Regions from separate parts of the Homo sapiens genome. Here all the other regions are reported to be linked to region 3. Evidence: microRNA targets listed by miRTarBase, many of them from high-throughput screens and not tested one by one. Region 3 holds a microRNA gene; each other region holds the end of a gene's coding sequence.

What was found. Region 3 holds the annotated microRNA hsa-miR-4751 (AGAGGACCCGUAGCUGCUAGAAGG, at 3,405-3,428, shown strand). A microRNA usually pairs through its seed, bases 2 to 8, with sites in the 3' UTR of a target mRNA and lowers its output. Matches are read on the target gene's strand: a 7mer-m8 pairs with bases 2 to 8, a 7mer-A1 pairs with bases 2 to 7 and ends in A, and an 8mer does both.
Region 1: the mRNA of MDFI is a reported target of hsa-miR-4751. Seed matches in the 3' UTR shown: 7mer-m8 at 805-811.
Region 2: the mRNA of ADNP2 is a reported target of hsa-miR-4751. Seed matches in the 3' UTR shown: 7mer-A1 at 6,223-6,229.

What each region holds. Positions count from the first base shown.
Region 1 is chr6:41,652,884-41,660,071 of GRCh38, forward strand. MDFI (MyoD family inhibitor) reads left to right here. Exons shown (of 5, transcript NM_005586.4): 5 at 436-1,361. The coding sequence ends at 692. Among named protein-coding and RNA genes, the nearest start is that of MDFI, 18 kb to the left of the region's middle. RefSeq lists an enhancer at 4,532-5,146.
Region 2 is chr18:80,137,918-80,145,110 of GRCh38, reverse strand. ADNP2 (ADNP homeobox 2) reads right to left here. Exons shown (of 4, transcript NM_014913.4): 4 at 4,765-7,193. The coding sequence ends at 6,302. Among named protein-coding and RNA genes, the nearest start is that of PARD6G-AS1, 6.4 kb to the left of the region's middle.
Region 3 is chr19:49,929,669-49,936,861 of GRCh38, forward strand. MIR4751 (microRNA 4751) reads left to right here and starts at 3,396; the gene lies at 3,396-3,469. It overlaps ATF5 (activating transcription factor 5), which reads left to right. Exons shown (of 3, transcript NM_001193646.2): 2 at 1,064-1,360; 3 at 2,754-4,267. The coding sequence starts at 1,183. The coding sequence ends at 3,424. RefSeq lists a silencer at 277-326.

The DNA of each region.
Region 1 (7,188 bases), not on the chromosome of region 3:
CTGGGATTACAGGCATGAGCCACTGGGCCCGGCCGACTTCTCTTAACCTCAGTCTCTTCATCTGTAGAGTGGGGCTAGTAAAGGCCCCTGCCTCATAGATTCATTGGAGGCCTAAATGAATGTAATTCATGCACAGCACTCAGAACAGTGCCAAGAACATGTATCACTCCATATGTTGGTTAAACAAATAAACAGAGGGTGGCTAAGAGCAAGGATGATCCAGACTGCCCGCTCCGATGTGCTTAACTGTCTGTGCCTCGGGGTCATCACCTAGAAAATGGAGCTGTGGGGACGGATTCGTGAGCTTCAGGCACACAGTGAACACTCAGCGTCCCTGCTGCTGCCGCTGCCGCAGGCCCCCACACCCCCGGCTATTTCACACACGCTCATCCCTCCCCTCTCTCACCCGTCCCCCTCTCCACCGCCACCCCGCAGACTGCTGTGTCCACTGCATCCTGTCCTGCCTGTTCTGCGAGTTCCTGACGCTGTGCAACATCGTCCTGGACTGCGCCACCTGTGGCTCCTGCAGCTCGGAGGACTCGTGCCTCTGCTGCTGCTGCTGTGGCTCTGGCGAGTGTGCCGACTGCGACCTGCCCTGCGACCTGGACTGCGGCATCCTGGATGCCTGCTGCGAGTCCGCGGACTGCCTGGAGATCTGCATGGAGTGCTGTGGGCTCTGCTTCTCCTCCTGAGCCTCTGTCGGGGGCTAAGCCAGCCTGGCGCCCCTGCAGATTCCAGCAGGGTCCCTCTGAGTGGGGCCAGGCCCAGGACTGTCACACAAGGCTTGAGAAGCCCCCTCTCCCTGGTCCTCTCCTACCCACCCATGTCCTCTCAGAACCCCAGCCTTGAAAATAGTGGGGGGCACTCAGAGGGGCCACCTCCTCAGCCGTGGGTGGTGGGCCCATGGCAGAGAAGCCTGAACTCTTTACTGGGTTACCAGGTTCATACATTGCTGAGGACCTGACAGGACAACCTAGGGGCAGGGCTGGGGTGGGGACCGCAGGGGGCAGCCAGGGCTGGGGAACACTGTGAAAGTTACTTGGGGAGGGTGGGCCGGTGGGGCCGTAGCTCTCTACCTCTCCCTGCTCCTGGTGCCTGCCTCTCTCCTCCACCCCAGGCTTAGAGGACAGAAAAATGTGAAGAGACGCCCCACCCACCCTCAGCCAGCCCTCTCCAGTCTCCTTTCCTAGGCTTTTTTGGGGGCCTAACCCACGCAGTGACCCCAGAGGGCAGGGCTAGGCGAGAGCCTGGGGTGGGGCGGGAGGGGGAACAGTATGGAAAAGACTGGAAGGGGAAAGGAAGGGAAGGGAGGGAGGGTCTGTTCTATCTGTTGCTGTAAATAAAGATATTTGTCCATCTCAGATTTCCTCAGGACTCATGACTAATTGCCATGGACCCTGACTCTCAAAAGCAAACGCCCCCTACCACCGCTAAAAAGCACCCACATGGGTGAGGCTGCCCTGCCCTCTGGGGGCCCTGCCTCTTCTGCTTTCTTACCCCAGAAACTGCCCTGCCCTTCACGTTCCCCTCCCTTCTTCATGTTTCCCACTAAGGGAAGAAGGTTAAGGGGGTGCTGTCTCCCACCATTATTTCCTTCTTCCCACCAAGGGGAGGGGAAGCCCAGAGGGAAGAGTTAACCTTGGCATGGAATTAATTAACAGCAGATGTGTTCGGGTTTTGATTAATTAATCTCCTGCTGACTTCAGCTTCTCCAGCTCTATCCCATGAAGTCGCTCCAAGGCATAGGTGATGCCCATGACAGTGCCAGAGGGGTGCCTGGGAGGGGGCTACTCCAGGCCTGGGGCAGCCCAGACTTGCCCCTGGGCTTCACTGGAGGCCCAGTGGGGGTCACACACCCAGCCTCAGGCATCCCCCTATTGCCAGGCGTCTGAGAAAGAAGGAAGCCTTGTCAGGACTGCATGGGCCCCTACGGCCATCTGTGGGGCGGCCTTGGAGTGCAGAGGGAAGGGCCTGAGAAGCAATGGCGGCTGTGAGGATCGCAGGGCCGCACTGGGGGCAGCTGGACCAGCACCCCCCACACATATCCTGGACCTGGAGGAGGCCAGGAGAGGTCCAGGGGGCATGAGAGGCTCTGGGACAGTTGGGGCAACTTGGAGAACACTCAGCTGATGAAGGCCTTGAGACGGGGGCTGCAGGGGTATTAGTGGGCACTGCTTCCAGGAATGAAGGCTTGGAGTGGTTCCGAGGGATTCTGGAAGGAAGGAGTGGGGACTGGGGAAAAGGGCCAGATGAAATCCAAACTCTCTTAAGGAATGTCACAGGAGGGAGCAGCCTATGGCCTTGGGAGTGGGTTTCATTGCAGCAGGAGGAGGAGGTTCTAACAGGCAACGCAAACTAGCCCCCCACCCCCTCCCCACTCCATCTCCACGCACACACGCCTCACTTCACCAGCTTCAAGGTTTTCTGACCTCTGAGAGCACACAAGAAATTCAGGACACAGAGAGGAAGGGACCTGCCTGGGGTCTCACAATCAAGCCGGTAGAGGGTCCCCGAGGCACCCCCAGCACTCATGTATCTATTTGTGCGTATTTTTATATATTTTCTTAGTTATTGCCTGCCCAAGGTACGGAAGGTTTGAAAGTCTGATCTGTGCACACACAAGCATTTACATGTATGTGTTTTCTTTTTTTACGAAGATGTGAGGATCCTGTACACACTGCACTGTACCCTGTTTTTCCCACCTGGCCATGTCTTGGGGAGCTTCCTTCCCAGCACATGGAGAGCTGGCTGAGTTGCCCTGGATGGATGCGCCACAGTCCAGGGACCCCCAGCTCTGCTTAATCCGCTCTCAAGCGCTTTGGTACAAACCAGGCTGAGCGAGGCACACCCTTTTGCATGAATGAGCTGTATCGGCAGAATGTTCGTGAATGTGGGATTGCTGGACCTACCATTGACAGGACTGCCTGGCTTTCCTCTGTGAGGGTGTTCCAGCCTCGGCTCACTCAGCCTCGGGGGCATCCACTTCTCCCACTGCCCTCGAGAGACAACGGTGGGAGGGTTTCCCATTCAGTCCTCAAGGCTGGGGTCTGAAGGGCGTTAGGGAGGCCAGATCAGGGGGTGAAGGGGCTCCTGACCAGCTCGATATCTGGTCCAGGTGGGCAGGAAGGCCTGCTCCTGGCCCTCCCTGCTCCGCAGGGCTGTGGCAGGAAGAGGCGCCTCTGCAATCCAAACAGCGATTTCCTGCTGCAGGCTCCAGGCTGTTTTCTTTAGGACAGTGGCTGAAACCCTAGAGGCTAAGCTGGGTTGGGGCGGGACAGGGGAAGGATTTAGCCAGCCCCCCAGCACACACACACACACACACACACACACACACTCACACACTCACACACACACACACTTCACACCTGTATGCACACACACATACACTCACACAGACTTTCCATACAGTCACGTACTCACATACATTCCGCAGGCTCATGCATTCCATCACCCGCACCACACACACACTCACACCACATCTACCCACACACGGACACACACTCACACATTTCACAGCCTGCAGCCGCCGCCACCCCTGGCCAGCCTGAGGCTGGGCTGTGGAGACTCATGCCTATCCATTCAAGCTTCGTCCCACACCTGCCCTGCCTTCCTCACCTCCCTGTCTTTGCCCAGGTGGCCCTGATCCCTGCCGGGCAGCAAATGGCAAAAGCCCTGGCTCTGGGCCCTTCCCTCTCCTCATGGTCTACCACAGGCTCCCAGGCTCTGCTTTCCAACGGCTGGGCTGAGCCAGGAGACAGTTTTAGGCCTGGCTGTGCTGTGGGCCCCGGGAAAGAGGCCCTTTCCTCCCCAAGCCTGTGTGTACGACGGAAGAGTGGGTAGACTGCAGCCACAGTGTCCAGGGAACACCTGCCTCTCTCCAGTCTTCTTTCATCTTTGGAGCAGCAGATCAGGCCACTTTTGCCTGGGAGACATCTTAAGAGGCCACCCCGCCCCCTGGGTTGTCTAAACCAAGGCAAGCACCCCCTGCTTGTGGGAGAGAAGGTGGTGAGGCCAAGTTTAGCCATCTGTGGCTAGTACTGTCCATGACCACTCAGTGATCTTGTGCGCCAAACCTAAGAGGGGTGGCCCCACGGCAGAGCAAGTAGCTGAACCAGGGGGTGGTTTGTGAGGGGAGGGCAATCAGCCGGACCCCTCTGCCTCCATAGTCTCCATCAGCTTCTCCCTGTATTTGGAACTTTAACTGGCATAGCCTGTTCTCATACTCAGAGCGGGGCAAACTGAGCTTCAGGCCCCATGGCCTCCATGGCTCCAGAGCTGCCAGGACAGAACACCGCTAAGCAGTTCTGACACTGGGCTGAGCAGGTCCATCCCTGCCCCGTGCCATCACCCTCAACAGCTTCACCTGCTCCCCAGGGTGATGGTCCGGTTGTGGGGGCTGGGGCTGGTCTCTGGGGTTTTCAGGCCAACTGCTGCACACAATCCCAGGGCTGAGCAGGGGGCAGCGGGACTCCACTTGTTGACCGAGCTGGAAAACAGCTTAGTCGTCCTTGGGGCTGGCCCTGGGCAAAGAGAGGTGAGGGAGAAGCAGGGACAGGAGGCTCAGGCCACAGTGGGGGAGTAGCGAGTCATGGGGACAGAGCTCACAGAGCCGGTCCCTTGTCATCTCTGTGCAGATGCTCCTCTGTGCTCTGACTTTCCTAGGCTGGTGAGGACACACGGTATGGGATGGCAGCCGCAGTCACAGCCCTTTCATCACCTCAGCCTCCTCTGGAGAAAAGCCATCTCCCAGCCCTTCCTCGCCTCTCACCTGGTTTCACCGCTTTCCCCCAGGCCGTAGCCACCGTCCAGTTCACAATCCCTGCCATCTCCGGGTCTGCTTCTTTCTGGGTGCGGGGCACATTTCCTCCTACTGCAGACAGATACATGTGGAGTGGGAAGGGGTAGACACACGGTCCACCTGGCACCGTCTCAGTTCTACTGCCTTGGGGCCACATAGCAAAGGCCAGGGAGGCACTCTGATTGGCCCCGCACATCAGCAGGCTCATCCCTGAGCCAATCACGGTGCCAGGGGACGGAGGGCTGTGGCTGGCCAGGCCTCATCGTGTGCTGCCTCTGTGGCCTGGGAGAGTGGGCTACTTGGCCACCCCTCCAGACCCTGATAGAATCAAGGAAGGGAAACCTCCCAAAGAGGTAGGGGTGTTATAAGAAAAACGAGGGGAAAGCTAACAGATTAAAACAACAGAAGTTACCGTGGGGTCAGACTACCACGGGTGGTACAGAGAAGTCCCTGAGTAGAGGAGACCCAGCTGGAAACCTCAAGTTGTCGAGTGCAGCTCAGCACATTTGGCTGGAGAAGAGAAGGCAAGAATGGCCTTCAAGTACCTGGAGCTTGAGTAGAGTGCGGCTTATGTTCAGCCTCCAGCAGGTAGGGGTAAGACCGAGAAGCAGACATAACAGAAAGAGCATTCCCAGCTCCAGGAATGAGAGAATACTCTGCTAGCAAGAACTGCCCCAGGAAAGATGGACAGCCACAGCAGGGGGCAGGGCTGGGGTCATCCCTGTTCCAAGGACTGTTCTGGGGGAGCCAGTGTAGATTAGGTCCCTGCCCAGGTACTGACAGGGCGGCAGAAAGGACAGATGGTGGAGAGTTTTTACAGGTGGTCCCACAATTCCTTCTAACTCAGATCTTCCATAGCTAACAACATAGACTGCGGCCATCTGATAAGAGAGAAACACGGGATTGAAGGTAGTCGGGGAGATGGAGTAAGATGAACAAAAGGAGACAGAGACAAGGAGGCAGACAGGAGGGTGCGGACAAACTAAGGCCCTTGGAGACGGAAAGGTGAAGCAGCAGGCTGAAGGCACACAGCCCCCGGCCCCTCCCAAGGTCGCCCGCTGTGGGCTGTGGGGGCAGTGGTGCCCCTTAGCCCGGATCCCTCCCAGGCATGGAGCCTCCGCAGAGCTGGGCAGCTCAGCATTAATTAGGACCTGGCTAATGGCTCGGAAGATTGGCCAGTTCTAGGGACGCTGATGAATAGAGACTGCGCTGAGATTTATTCCTAATTATCTCATTTGTCTCCCCCCATTACTCTTTATGGCTGGGATTTATGGGACCATTAGGGGGGCCCAGCCAGGCCAGGACGAGTGTGAGCCTCGAGATGCTTCGTGCTAATAACAATAACAATGGTCCTCTTGGCCCGGATTAATGGAGGACTGACTTTCTTGCCCTCCCCATCCCCTATTCTTGGGACCCCAGACACTAGCTTCCCCCATGTTCCTCTCCCGTCCAGGACCCCTGGCCCTCAGCCACCTGTGGAGTTCAAGCCTGTGCCCCCCTCTGCCTCCCGCTCTACCCCAAGGGCTCAAGGTAGTAGTGGGAGGACCTGATTTCAAAGGTAACACCTCTGGGACAAAGCTTGTATCAATATTGATGTGTTCGGCAGCAAGCAGCAAAGAACCCAAATAAATATGGCCTCAACTGTAAGGACATTTATTGTCTCCTTAACTAGAAATGCGGAAGTGGGTGAGCCCTGAGCTGATCAGGAAACTCCAAGACACCATCAAGGATCCTGGCTTCCAACCTCCTGCTCCATCATGCCCAGAATGTTGTCCATGGCTCCCCTCCTAGTCACAAAATGGCTACTACAGCCCCAAGCGTTGTGTCTTTACACATGGCATCCCTCGAGAACAAAAAGGGCAGGTGGGCTGGGTGCAGTGGCTCATGCCTGTAATCCTAGCACTTTGGGAGGCTGAGGCAGGTGGATTGCCTGAGCTCAGGAGTTCAAGACCAGCCTAGGCAACATGGCGAAACCCCGTCTCTACTAAAAATACAAAAAATTAGCTGGGCATGGTGGTGCATGCCTGTAATCCCAGCTACTTGGGATGCTGAGGTACAAGACTCCCTTGAACCCGGCGGAGGTTGCAGTGAGCCGAGATCACACCACTGTACTCCAGCCTGGGCAACAAGCGAGACTCTGTCTCAAAAAAAAAAAAAAAAAAAAAAAAAAAAGGCAGATGGAAAAGGGGGACTTCTCCTCCCTCACCTTTTACCAGAGCAGGGAGGGAACGATTTCCAGAAGCCCCAACAGGCTTCTACTTACATCTTTGCCCACACTGGATCATATTCCTTCTTAGGTTGGACTCCTCCAGAAGCTGACTCTAGACAAGAATTGAAGTGCAAATAATTTGCTTACGAGGGGGTTCCAGGAAACACCAGTAGGGGAGTGA
Region 2 (7,193 bases), not on the chromosome of region 3:
TTTGTTTTTCATAAGATACTGAACTGAAACCATGTTTAGCATTTTAGTAGCAACACATCTATTTTTAGTATCTCAACTTTTACCCTAATTTATCAAACCAGTTAAACACGGAATATTATATCAAAGCAAAAAAACAAAAACAAAAAACCGATGCTACAAATAGCTAGGAAATGGCTAGAAAATGTACAGCACTGGGAGTTGATACAGATGTATTCTGCTCACTTCTCAATTAGGAGCTTATTAGACAAAGATGATCACTACTATCACCTATGAATAAAAAATGAAGTCAGAAGTGAAGTCGTTTGTGACTAGGAAATGGGGGTACAGAGAACCACTGTAAATACAATGTGCAGTTCTGGGATGAGGTTATCAATTTTCTAACAACATGTGAGACATAACCAGAAGAGTGGCAGCCTTAGAACCAACACAATTAGACACCCAAGCTGCTTCATCCCAAAGGGGTCGTGGGGCTGGAAATGGGAGCAGGGGACAGAGCAGGGCAACAGAGCAGGGCTGAACTTGGAATTCCCAAGTGCATTCCAAAAATCCTTGCCCTCCCCTTCAATTCTGTCCTCTCCTTTCGTGTAGTCTTACTGATATATTTAATCATTTGAAAGCACATATAAAACCTAGAAAAATGTTTTAATAGCCAAAAATGACCTTCCCTAAAAAATTCCTAATCTCTTTAAAATGACCTCTTATAAATTCCCAGTTATTTTCATAAGCTGTTTTCCACAATATAATAACAAACGGTGGATGAATCTCCCATCCTTTTTAGGACCAAAGATCACTTTCCTTGTTGTAATGAGACGTCTAATCTGGGCCTACACAGGGACTCTTTCAAGCATTTGTAGCTTATAAGAGTCCAAATTTGGGATCCTAATTATATATATGTGATGCTTGGAGTTTGAATTGTTTTTATTTTCAGCAAACTGTCTTGTGTGGTTTTTCCATATATTCAGTCTTCCCATTCTAAACAAGCTGCTTGGTAGGAGGCCAGGAAGTCCAACGAGTGAATGGATCTGTGACTCTCACAGGATGTTTTTATGAATTTTATGACTCTTTCGAGATACACATACATCTAACACAGAAAGATTACTGTCAGAAGAACCACTGAACCACTAAAGCCTTATGATTCATTGCTAATGTTCTATTTTTTCTAGTGCACTTTTAGGTGAATGACAAATTATTTAACATTAAACTTTCCATATCATGGGTTCAAAACTGTAGGAAACTACACAATTTCTGGAAAAAAAATACATTGATTCATTGCAATTAATTCTGTATTTGTATTTGAAAGTATGACCTCACAGCTTAGTTTGCATACAGCAAACATAGACGTCTATGTGGCTGCCAAAGTTTAGTTTACACTTTAAATATCTTAAATTCTTATCGGAAAGTTCCCTTCTGAAAAGGACTTTATGTATTTTCTTTTTTAAAAGAAATAATGTTTAGTTCAGAGATGAGCATGCAAAAAAAAAGAAATCATGTTGCTGGTGATGAGCAAAATGAAGATAAGTGGGTCTGGAGCACCCTCTTTAAAAGGCCATGAAGAACAACACTAGCTACTGTTTAGCAACCTTACATATATTTTTCCTCTCAAAATGCACAGCTGAATCATTTGCGTGAATGACTGGTATTAGTATTTGTTTTGAACTGGACACCATGATGGGCCTAAAGATCCCTTTCAGACACCACAGGCTCTGGCGTTTCATCTACTTTATAAGGTGGTCTCCTAGACAGCAGTCCCCATATAAGCATAGGTCTTTGAGGTTGGTAGTTAAGTACATTCTCATTTTAACTCTCTATTATGAAAAATCTGATAATATTCTAGACTTTAACATTTTTCCAACCTTCTAGGTCACATATTTACACTTTTTACCCAAGGGAGTTCATGGATCATAAATTAAGAAACTCCTGAGTTTAGGATCTGAAGAAAGTGAAGGGCTGGGTACTGTTCTAAGTAATGTATTTTTAGGCACATTCACAAAATATGAAAACAGCTTCCCTACATAACCTCTATATTGCTAAAATGACATTTAAACTTGCAGTTAATATTAAAGACTTAGTACTTAGGACAAATGATCAAAAATCAGAATTCTAAAGCTGTGGTGTAGCATCTGCACAACAGAAAGCCGAACTTGCAGAAGCCTGAGTTAGCAGGTGTGCTACCAAGTAAGCCCTCATCATCAGAAACATCTCACACTTACTTTCACCACCTATGAAAAGAAATTAGCTTGAAGAAACTGGACACTTAATAACCATAAGAGAAACTTCCAGCAGTACTTCATAGATGGCAATTTTGTTGCTTAGTTCATGAAAATTCAGCAGAGAGAATCTAAACAGCAAAACTGCATGCATTTTTTTATCGTTGTTTTCACTAACTCAGGACTATCATTCTTCGTCACTAATATATTGTCACTATCAAATTTAACATGCAAAATGTTTAGAATGGCACCTGGCACATAGGAACTGCTCTGGTAACCATCTCTATGTTGTTATTGTTGACAGCACCACCAGAAAAAGGATGTCTAGGATCAGGATGCCCTATTCACCCTGATACCCAAAGGGCAATGTACAGGTCTAACGATAATATTGTACCACTGAGAAGCAACATGTCTTCCTGGGCAAACTGAAATTTGAGTGGAGTAACGAGCTTGTCCCTCTGCCTAAGAGGTTCCTTTTTAGCACTGAAGTCTAGAGAAATCACTCAAGTTCTTAGCAAACTGGGACAGCTAGCCAACTCTGCCTCTGAGCTTGTTTCTTCCTCTAGAAAACACAGACAACTTAATACCTATAGGGTTATTGTGAGATTTAAATGGGATAATACATGTTAGAAGCCACTCAGCTATCACTCTAGCACTGTCCACCCTCACAGGCCTCCACCTCAGGCAAGTCATTTACCTCCATGCCTCAATTTCCTCAGGTGTGAGAGGGGAGACTACCACTCACTCGGTAGGACTCAATGTGAGAACGCATGCTGATGGCCATGCCACAGGCACAGGAGGCAGCAAGGATGACTATCATCAAGTATGCAGCCCCTTTCCTAGCAATATCAAGCAGTTAGTACATGTGTGCTATTTTCTAAAAAGACCTTGAAAATTAGGACAGTTCTGGGGCTAAGTTTTCTTAATTAGTGCTTAATTAACTGCTGCTTTGTTTAGTGAATCTAAGAAACTGCACACAACAGTCATCAGACTAAAATAGCTGCTAAAAAAGGGTAACAGAGGCCCAGCCTGGTGGCTCATGCCTGTAATCCCAGCACTTTGGGAGGCTGAGGGGTGGCAGCATGGCTTGAGGCCAAGAGTTCAAGCCCAGCCTGGGCAACACAGCAAAACTCCATCACTACAAAAACTGTTTAAAATAATCTGGGCATGATGGGTAGGCACCTCAGCTACTTAGAAGGCTGAGGCAGGAGGACAACTTGAGCCCAGGAGTTCGAGACTGCAGTGAGCTATGATCACACCACTGTATCCCAGCATGGGCACCAGTGCAAGATTCTGTTTACAATAAAAAATTTTAGGCCAGGCATGGTGGCTCATGCCTGTAATCCCAACACTTTGGGAGGCCTAGGCGGGCATATCACCTGAGGTCAGGAGTTAAAGACCAGCCTGGCCAACACGGTGAAACCCCATCTACAATAATTAGCCAGGCGTGGTGGCATGCACCTATAATCCCAGCTACTCGCGAGGCTAAGGTGGAAGAATCGCTTGAACCCAGGAGGCAGAAGTTGCAGTGAACCGAGATTGTGCCACTGCACTCCAGCCTGGGAAAAAGAGCGAGACTCCGTCTCAAAAAAAAAAAAGAAGAGCAACAAAATTCAGAGAAGCTAAAATAGTATGCTATATTTAAATGTGTTTTACCTGAATAGATTTCAAGTGTGTAGTATTTTTAAAGCTGCTGCTACATAGGTAGATTAAATATTTTAAAGTACACAATTTTTTGTATTTAAAAAACTCCTTCCTTCTAAATTTAATAAGTTTAAACTTTGTTCACAACTATTAATCTGTTACTCATTTTTTCATTTTCAAATAATAAATTTCTTACATTTGCAAGAACTCCCACATGTGCTTTTTGAAGCTCAGCTTCTATCAAATCTTAATCTCTAATCCTAAAAAACTAGTAACCAGCAACTAGCATAACATTAAAGACAGCATGAACAGTTCTACCACAGCTAAACTGCACCAAGAAATCAGCTCTTTTACCAGGGTTCTGACAAGATTCTGCCCCTCAGGGACCACCTGGTAATGACATTTTTGGTGGCCACAATGGGGAGAGAGTAGGGACATGCGTGCTACTAGTGTCTAACGACACTGCTCAACATCCTACAGTGACAGAATAGCCACCCACCACAGAGAATTACCTGACCCAAAATGTCAGCAGTGCTGAGGCTGGGAAACCCTAACGTACACAACAAAAGGAAGGTGAGGATTCAACCACGCCAGACGGCAGCTGCCTCCTCATCAGCACCTCCTCCACACTCACCCTGAACACAGCCACAGTGAAGGAAACTTCACAGCACTGACACCCCAGTTACATACCTTCTTTGGCACTTTGGGGGCTACCAGTATAGAATCATCAGGAATCTGTAGTTACACCTATTTTGTGACCCCAGTAATTAGACCTTTTGGGTTATGTTCTTATTTTCACACAAATGACAGGTAAGGTTTTTTTAGAAAATAAATGTGGTATCTATTCCCATATAGAGGTTATCCCTATGATTCACAATAATGTTTTAACTTTTAAAAGAATTAAACAGTTCTATTTGCAGCGGTGTAACAAATTTTAATTCAAAATAGACACTCTGAAAACAATAGGTAAAAAAAAAAAATGTTCAACAAGCTCTCTTTGAATTTACAACAGAGTACACCAACAATCATAAACCAGTTTCACAACTGCCTCAAATATGAACATTATAGCAATTACATGCAAGTATTATATTTTTTAAAATCCACATAGTAACATTATGTTTCTCAGAGGCTGTCACATCCTCCAAATATTTCTACCTAAAGATAGAGTGAAGGGGTTCCTCTGCTGTGTACCACCAGAAATATGACTTACCATCTAAACTGGCTGGTCTCCATGACTGGTTCTGGTGCTTTAAGTTTTAATATCGTGTGGGGAAAAAAACGAGGTTTAACATCCACAGGACAGTGACGACAATGGAGATTCTTTAACAATATGCCATCCCATCGACCCGGACACAGCTTCCAGCCTAAACCAGCTAGAGAAAAGCCCGTTTCTCCACTAAACATGACCTTCAGAAAATGTGGTCAAAGACTTACTGTACCAACCATGGAGACTGAGATCTCAGTCTGTAAACTTCGCCATGTCCCCTGAAACCCTATGCTGAAATTTAAGTTAGTTTTCACACTCAGGGGCAATAATCTTATTCCTGAGTATCATAGACCTTCCCTTTCACTAGTTTATGAGTAGTTAAGTTAGGAGAAGAGTTTTGGGGTGTATTCTTTCAATGTTTATTCTAAAGGCACTAAAAATTTATTGTTTTACCTCTGAACGGAGAAATGACTTAGCATATCAAAAGGGAAAATCTACACTGAAAAATATTTCTGCATCTACAGAATAAATTTATTTGTAAAATAACTCTTGATGTATGAGCTACATACCAGCATACCAGATGTCAAATTCAGTCTACTTTTAACAAATAAAAACATTTGATTTTCTATGAGTTATGGTTAAAAAAAAAAACAGCTATTAGGATAAACCTAAAAAAATACAGATCTAAATTATAATCTATAAGCAAAGATCTTACAAAGAAGTCAGCGTAAGTTAATGCAGTGCATCCTCAGGGAGCCTTATACATACATCACAGGGTTTGTACCCACGTCTCTGAACACTCACTGTACCATCTGCTGCTACAGGGAAAGCTGAAGGAGATCGATGCTTCCACTCGCAGTTAAATCAAGTATTCTGAAAAAGGCTGAAATGTCCTTAATGAAAAAGCAAATTATTTATAGATTTCAGTTTCTTATCATACGATACTGACACTAGTGGGAAAACAAGGCGTGCATGAAATATCAAAAGATTTCATTTACATGACAGAGAAAAAAACCTGAAAACAACTGTTCTGTTACAAATCAAACTGCAGGAAACAATAGATGTGAAATAACTACTGGCTTCCTGGTAACAGGGGTCTCTCCAGCACCTGAAGTAACTCTGCAGAGCAGCACAGTGACCACTGAGGTTGATTCACCAACACAGTGAGGACAACACTGTGAAATTTCAACTGAAAAAAATCTACCTACTACTTTAGAGTTACTTTTTTTTTTTTTTGCAAGTTTTATGGTTCATATTCAAAGTTCAATCTATGTTTCACATTTTTAAGTTCAGACATATCAAAGCCTAAAAGTACAGAAGGCTTGTGATTTTTTATTGCTTTCATGCAAATATACCTTCTTTTTCCAAAAAATGAAGCCACATCAATTTTCCACACCCAAAAGAGTGAGGACAACAGTTCTATTTCCTTTTTACTAGGATATGGTTTCTTATGGAAATAATCTTTAAGAAATTGCTTCTTTTCTTCATAAGAACGGCCTTCATATTTTTTAGGATCTAATGCTAAAATCTGAAGAGCCTCGTCCTTGACAATAGGTCCCTCTGTTCTGCTTTCATTCCTTTGTCTTTTAAAAGGCACAACACTCGTCACCTTTTCTGGACCCGGGGCTGCATCGGCATTTAGGATGGGAGGCTGCTCCTCCCCATGCCGCTGGTCTTCGGCCCCTAAGTGGCCGTCAGGCAGCTTTCTCTTAACAGAAAAACTGGAATCATGCATCACTTCACCACTGACTAAAAGCAGTTCACTGTTGTGAATAAAACCCGGCTGGGCCTGCAGGTCTGAGCTGCTGTCCTTGGGAGCACTTCTGCAGCGCACCAAATGGACGGCGATGGCAGCCAGGGTCATATTTCCCGTGTAGACCCCACAGCAGTGGATGCACTTGAAGGCGGGAGACTTCAGGACCGTGTGGACTGTGGGCATGATGTGGTGCCTCTCCTTCAAATGCAGCTCATAGGCCTCAGTTGTCACAAAGGGGCCAAAGCAAAAGGGGCAGGTGGACACTCGCTTGCCGGTGCTCCCGGGGGTGCCCTCAGCCTGAGGCCTCACCTTCACATACACAGGCACCAGTGACTTGGAGTGTATCCCAGCCAGGATTGCCAAGTAGACTTCCCGCTCC
Region 3 (7,193 bases):
ACGATTCTTCGTGCTTGGTTGTTCCTGCGCAGTAGCCCACCAGTGCCCCGTAGTGAAAGAGCTGCGGACCCTGAATGGCCGCACATGCGCATTGATCCCCAAGAGGGCGGAGGTGTAAAGGCAATTGGACCGCTCGGGCGACGTAGCATGCGCCTTGGCCCTCGGCGCAGAGCCGCGTGTGGACGGGTGGCGTTCGGGTAGCCGTTCTCCGCGTGCCCCCTCTACCCTCCTCCACCCTCCCTGCCCCACGTTGCTCTGGCTCACAGCCCAGCTTCCTTCCTTTTAAACCAGGCACCTGCTGAGGCGGGGACTGGCTTAGATTGACAGGGCAGAAGGCGGGACCCAGAGGCAACCCTCTAAGTGGGTGGGGATAGAACCACTGTCGTCACGATGGGTGGGATTTCGGAAGCACATTGTGAGAAGGGGCGGGGCTAAACCAACCGTTAGTTGAGGGGTGGGGTTTCGATGTGACAAAGAGGCGGGGCCTCTGGGGAATCGGGGGAGGGGCGGAGCTAAATAAACAATGAGGGGCGGGGCTTGGAGGGGCAGCGGCAGAGCGAGGAGTGGGATTTGAGTGGATAACATTGCTGAAGGGCTGCGGCCTGGGGCAGTTCCCCTGGGAACTGGTTTGGGATGGAAGCTAGGAAGGCAGTGGGGCCAAAAGGAAATATTTTAGAGGAAGGGGCGTGGCTGGAAGAAAATGTCCCTGGGATTGAGTTTTTCCTTGAGGCGAAATATTCTGAGGTGGATGGGAGGGGCCTAAGGTAATTCCCCTGGGAGACCTTTAGGTTTTTTTTTTCTGTATTGGGGGAAGGGGTGGGGCATCGGTCCTACTTTAGGACCTAAAGAAATTCCCTTGGGAGTGGGTGGGGCTCAGAGATTTGGGTAAAGAAAGGGCAAATTTAGAATTCGGAGAGGCTGAGGCTTAGTGTTCTAAACGGTGGTTGGAAGGGGGAGGGAGGAGCCTCATGGACGTGCCTGGGGGTGTGGCTTGGCTTCCCCTTGATTTTGGCCGGTGGATGACGCTGTCCTGACCACACCCACTCTTGTCTCACGCGTGTAGGTCTTCCACTTTCGCCTTGGTGCCTGTCTTCGCCCACCTGAGCATCCTCCAGAGCCTCGTGCCAGCTGCTGGTGCAGCCTCTCCTGTTGCCATCAGTGCCCAGCACCTGTGCTACAGCCATGTCACTCCTGGCGACCCTGGGGCTGGAGCTGGACAGGGCCCTGCTCCCAGCTAGTGGGCTGGGATGGCTCGTAGACTATGGGAAACTCCCCCCGGCCCCTGCCCCCCTGGCTCCCTATGAGGTCCTTGGGGGAGCCCTGGAGGGCGGGCTTCCAGTGGGGGGAGAGCCCCTGGCAGGTAAGGGCAGGTGGAAGGTGGAGCTGGGGAGTGGAGGGCAGGGGAAGATGGGGGAGGAAGAACTCATCCATGTATTCAATAAATATTGAGTGCCTACAATGTGCCAGGCACTGTTTTAGGTGCTGAGGATACGGCTGGGAACAAGAAGAACATGGTCTGTGCCTTCCAGCAGCTCACACTGTGGGGAGTAGACCAGAGATAAATTAAATGAGAGTGTATTGGAATAAGTCAAAAACACCTAGCAGCTGAGCTACAAAATGACAAAGGGGACCTAATATAGAATGGGTAGCCAGAAAACCTTCTCCAAGTAGGTAACATGTTGACTGAGGCATAAATGATGGGAAGGAAGCCAGGCATGATGGCCTGTAATCCCAGCACTTTGGGAGGCCAAGCGGGGAGAATTGCTTTAGTCCAGGAGTTCAGGACGTGGGCAACATAGCGAGACCTCATATCTATAGGAAAAAAAAAATTAGCCAGGCATGGTGGCTCACGCTTGTAGTCACAGCTACTTGGGAGGCTGAGGTGGGAGGATCGCTTGAGCCTGGGAGGTCTAGGCTGCAGTGAGCCAAGATGATGCCACTGCACTGCAGCCTGGGCAACAGAGTGAAACCCTATCCCTTAAAATAAAAAAAAAGTAGGGAAGGAATGAGGAAAACACCCAAGGGAAGAGCATTTTAGTTGGAGGGAACTGTATATGCAGAAGCCCTCAGGAGGCAGGAATCATTTCATTCATTACTGTATCCCAAATGCTTGGCACATAGTGGGTTTTCAATAATTAATGAGTAAAGATGAAACAAGGCATATGTGCGTGTGTATCTGTGTGTGTAATGTGATCTAGTTTGCCTTTTAAAAAGAGAGAATAGAGACACCACAGATACAGAGTACTCGGTAAAGGAGATGTTGGAATGGTTGAAGAAATGCTTGGTTGACTGTTGCTTGAGTCATTGGTTGGTTGGCTGGTTCTTTTTTTCTTTTTTAATTTTTTTTTTCTCCTGGACCCTCTTATGGGTTAAGACTGATTCTTTCATTGGCTAATTTGTTGGGTTTTGGTTAACTGGTTCATTGGTTGATTAATGGGTTGATTGGTTGGTTGACTGATTTATTTGGTTGGTTGACCGATTCCCTGATTGATTGGTCGACTAGTTCATTGGTTGGTTGGTTGGTTGGTTGGTTGACTGGGTGGTTAGATGGTTGATTGTTGGTTGGTTCGTTGACTGGTTTATTGGTTTCTTCACTGGTTTGTTGGTTTATTGACTGGTTTGATGATTCAGTGGTTAGTTGTTTTACTGAATGAATGGGACAGATGCACCTGAATGAGACGTGAGTCAGCACCCAACTACGCAGAAGACCAGCAACTCAGGGAATTTTGTGTCCCTCCCCACTTTAATCCCAGGTGATGGCTTCTCTGACTGGATGACTGAGCGAGTTGATTTCACAGCTCTCCTCCCTCTGGAGCCTCCCTTACCCCCCGGCACCCTCCCCCAACCTTCCCCAACCCCACCTGACCTGGAAGCTATGGCCTCCCTCCTCAAGAAGGAGCTGGAACAGATGGAAGACTTCTTCCTAGATGCCCCGCCCCTCCCACCACCCTCCCCGCCGCCACTACCACCACCACCACTACCACCAGCCCCCTCCCTCCCCCTGTCCCTCCCCTCCTTTGACCTCCCCCAGCCCCCTGTCTTGGATACTCTGGACTTGCTGGCCATCTACTGCCGCAACGAGGCCGGGCAGGAGGAAGTGGGGATGCCGCCTCTGCCCCCGCCACAGCAGCCCCCTCCTCCTTCTCCACCTCAACCTTCTCGCCTGGCCCCCTACCCACATCCTGCCACCACCCGAGGGGACCGCAAGCAAAAGAAGAGAGACCAGAACAAGTCGGCGGCTCTGAGGTACCGCCAGCGGAAGCGGGCAGAGGGTGAGGCCCTGGAGGGCGAGTGCCAGGGGCTGGAGGCACGGAATCGCGAGCTGAAGGAACGGGCAGAGTCCGTGGAGCGCGAGATCCAGTACGTCAAGGACCTGCTCATCGAGGTTTACAAGGCCCGGAGCCAGAGGACCCGTAGCTGCTAGAAGGGCAGGGGTGTGGCTTCTGGGGGCTGGTCTTCAGCTCTGGCGCCTTCATCCCCCTGCCTCTACCTTCATTCCAAACCCCTCTCGGCCGGGTGCAGTGGCTTATGCTTGTAATCCCAGCACTTTGGGAGGCCAAGGCAGGAGGATCGTTTGAGGCCAGGAGGTCAATACCAGCCTGGGCAACATAGTAAGACCCTGTCTCTATTAAAAAAAAAAAATCAACCCTTCTTCCCCACCAAACCACCCAACTCCTCTCTACTCTTATCCTTTTATCCTCTGTCTCTGCTTATCACCTCTCTTGCGTATTTCTGGATCTCCTTCCCTCCTTTCTCGTCCAAATCATGAAATGTTTGGCCTTAGTCAATGTCTATGCCCGTCACATAACAGCCGAGGCACCGAGGCCCACAGGGAAGCAGCTGGGAGCTTGGAAACCTGGTCTCTTGAATTTCAAACCTGGTTTCTTACAGGTGGTTGTCTGGGGTGGGTGGAGTGGCGACAGGATAGAGCTGAAGGACTATGCAAATGAGGAAGTAAGTCAGGGCGGGCTTTGAGAAGGGGACCCATATCCTACAGGCAAAAAGCAGGCTAGGTGACCTTGGGACACTACGCTAAGGGAGGGAGGCTAAAGGCGGCCAGGTTTGCAGTGCGGGAAGATGAGCAGGCCAGTGGGAGGAGGGGCAGGGCAGGGCTGTAGTTGGTGACTGGGTGTTCATTTTAGCTCTAAGAAAAAAAATCAGTGTTTCGTGAAGGTGTTGGAGAGGGGCTGTGTCTGGGTGAGGGATGGCGGGGTACTGATTTTTTTGGGAGGTTATGAGCAAAAATAAAACGAAACATTTCCTCTGGCTTGTGCATCTTGTCTTTGAGAGAAGCAGCTGGGGAGAGGCGGCCTTGTAATCTCAGCACTTTGAGAGGCTGAGGCGGGCAGATCACCTGAGGTCAGGAGTTCAGGACCAGCCTGACCAACAAGGTGAAACCCCATCTCTACTGAAAATACAAAATTAGCTGGGTGTGGTGGCGTGTGCCTGTAATCCCGGCAACTTGGGAGGCTGAGGCAGGAGACTCGCTTGAGCCAAGGAGACGGAGGTTGCAGTGAGCCAAGATTGTTCTATTGCACTCCAGTCTGGGAAACAAGATTGAAACGCTATCTCAAAAAAAAAAAAAAAAAAAAAGGGGGGGGGAGGTGGGGAGGGCCGGGCGTGGTGACTCACGCCTGTAATCCCAGCACTTTGGGAGGCTGAGGTGGGCAGATCACGAGGTCAGGAGATTGAGACCATCCTGGCTAACACGGTGAAACCCTGTCTTTACTAAAAATATGAAAAATTAGCCGGGTGTGGTGGCGGGCGCCTGTGGTCCCAGCTACTCGGGAGGCTGAGGCAGGAGAATCACTTCAACCTAGGAGGCAGAGCTTGCAGTGAGCCTAGATTGCGCCACTGCACTCCAGCCTGGGCGACAGAGCAATACTCCATCTCAAAAAAAAAAGAAAAAGACAGTAATAAAGATAACAGGGTGGGTGCAGTGGCTCACGCCTGCAATCCCAGCACTTTGGGAGGCTTTGCCAGGTGAATTGCTTGAGCCCAGAAGGTGGAAATCAGCCTGGATAACATAATGAGACCTCATCTCTACAAAAAATAATTTTTAAGAAAATGGCTGGGTGCTGTGGCTTACGCTTGTAATCCCAGCACTTTGGGAGGCCAAGGTGGGTGGATCACCTGAGGTCAGGAGTTCGAGACCAGCCTGACTAACATGGTGAAACCCTGTTTCTACTAAAAATACAAAATTAGCCAGGCATGGTGGTGGGCGCCTGTAATCCCAGCTACTTGGGAGGCTCAGGCAGGAGAATCCCCTAAACCTGGGAGGCGGAGGTTGCAGTGAGCTGAGATCGCACCATTGCATTCCAGCCTCAGCAACAAGAGTGGAACTCCATCTCAAAAAAAAAAAAAGAAAAAAAATTAGTGGGTGAGGTGGTGTGCACCTGTAGTCCTACATACTTGGGAGGCTGAGGCAGGAGGATCGCTTGAGGCCAGAAGTTGGGGACCAGCCTTGGCAACATAGCAAGATGCTGTCTCTACAAAAAAAAAATTAGGTGGGGCCGGGCGCCTTGGCTCAACGTCTGTAATCCCAGCACTTTGGGAGGCCGAGGCGGGCGAATCATTTGAGGTCAGGAGTTCAAGACCAGCCTGGCCAGCATGGTGAAACCTCATCTACTAAAAATACAAAAAAAATTAGCCAGGCATGGTGGCGCATGCCTGTAGTCCCAGCTACCTGGGAGGCTGAGGCAGGAGAATGGCTTGAACCCAGGAGGCAGAGGTTGCAGTGAGCTGAGATCACACCATTACACTCCAGCCTGGGCAACAGAGCAAGGCTCTGTCTCAAAAAAAAAAAAAAAAGAAAAGAAAAAGAAAAGAAAGAAAATTAGCTGGGCGTGGTGGCATGAACCTGTAGTCTGTAGTTCCAGGTACTCAGGAGGCTGAGGCGGGGGGATTGCTTGAACCCAAAGGTTGAGGCTGCAGTGAGCCATGTTTGTGCCATTGCACTCCAGCCTGGGTGACAAAGCAAGAACCTGTTAAAAAAAAAAAAAAAAAGACTGGGCACAGTGGCTCATGCCTGTAATCCCAGCACTTTGGGAGGCTGAGGTGGGTGGATCACGAGGTCAAGCAATGGAGACCATCCTGGCCAACATGGTGAAACCCCGTCTCTATGAAAAATACAAAAATTAGCTGGGCATGGTGGTGCACACTTGTGGTCCCAGCTACTCAGGAGGCTGAGGCAGGAGAATTGCTTGAACTCAGGAGGCAGAGGTTGCATTGAGCCGAGATCGTGCCACTGCACTCCAGCCTGGGCAACAGAGCAAGACTGTCTCAAAAAATAATAATAAATAAATACATAAATAAAAGAAAAAAGAAAAAAAAAGTTCTCCACCCAGCAGCAAAGCATCTTTCTTTGCAACAGTGCGGAATTTTACCGGAGCCTTGCGTGTGTGGACAACAGCGACAGTGAAGAAATCCCCCCACTTTTCCGGCCCAGGTGTAGTGGCTGACCCCTGTAATCCCTACACTTTGGGAGGCCAAAGTGGGAGGATCGTTTGAGCCCAGGAGCTTGAGAACAACCTGGGCAACATAGCACGACCCTGTCTCTACAAAAAGTTAAAAAAAACTAACAACAAAAAAGAAATCCTCCCGCTTTTTTGCATTCCAGGAGATGGCTTACTGAGAAGAACCACCCTTCCGTATATGACTTAGATAAGACTTGAGGATGAACCCCTTGTCTAAGACAAGGGCAGACATAGACCCTCCAAATTCCCATTTCGTTGTCTCGTACATGATTAACTGAACTGTTTTGTCCCCAGTGATCAATTGAAACAAAATGCTTGTTTAACCTAACTTACTCTCCTCACTGCCAGGCCTCTGAATTTCAGTCCATCCACAGCCTCAGCCAGAATACAGCCCCTCCTTAAGCACCTCTCCTGAGAAGAATAAAACATTCCCTGGTCGATTGTCCTGTACAATAGCCCTTGCATCTTATTTTCCCACAGCTGGTTCTTTCTAACCTTGTTTACTCCTCCCCATAAAAGAAAAAGTCTTTGGCTGTGCACATGGCCTGCGCCTGTGGTGCCAGCACTTTGGGAGGCTGAGGAGGATCCCTTGAGTTCTGGAATTCCAGAGCAGCCTGGGCAACATAGCAAGACCCCATCTCTACAAAAAAATTACAAATTAGCCGTGCATGATGGCACGACAGTGAGCTGAGATTGCACCACTGCACTGCAGCCTGG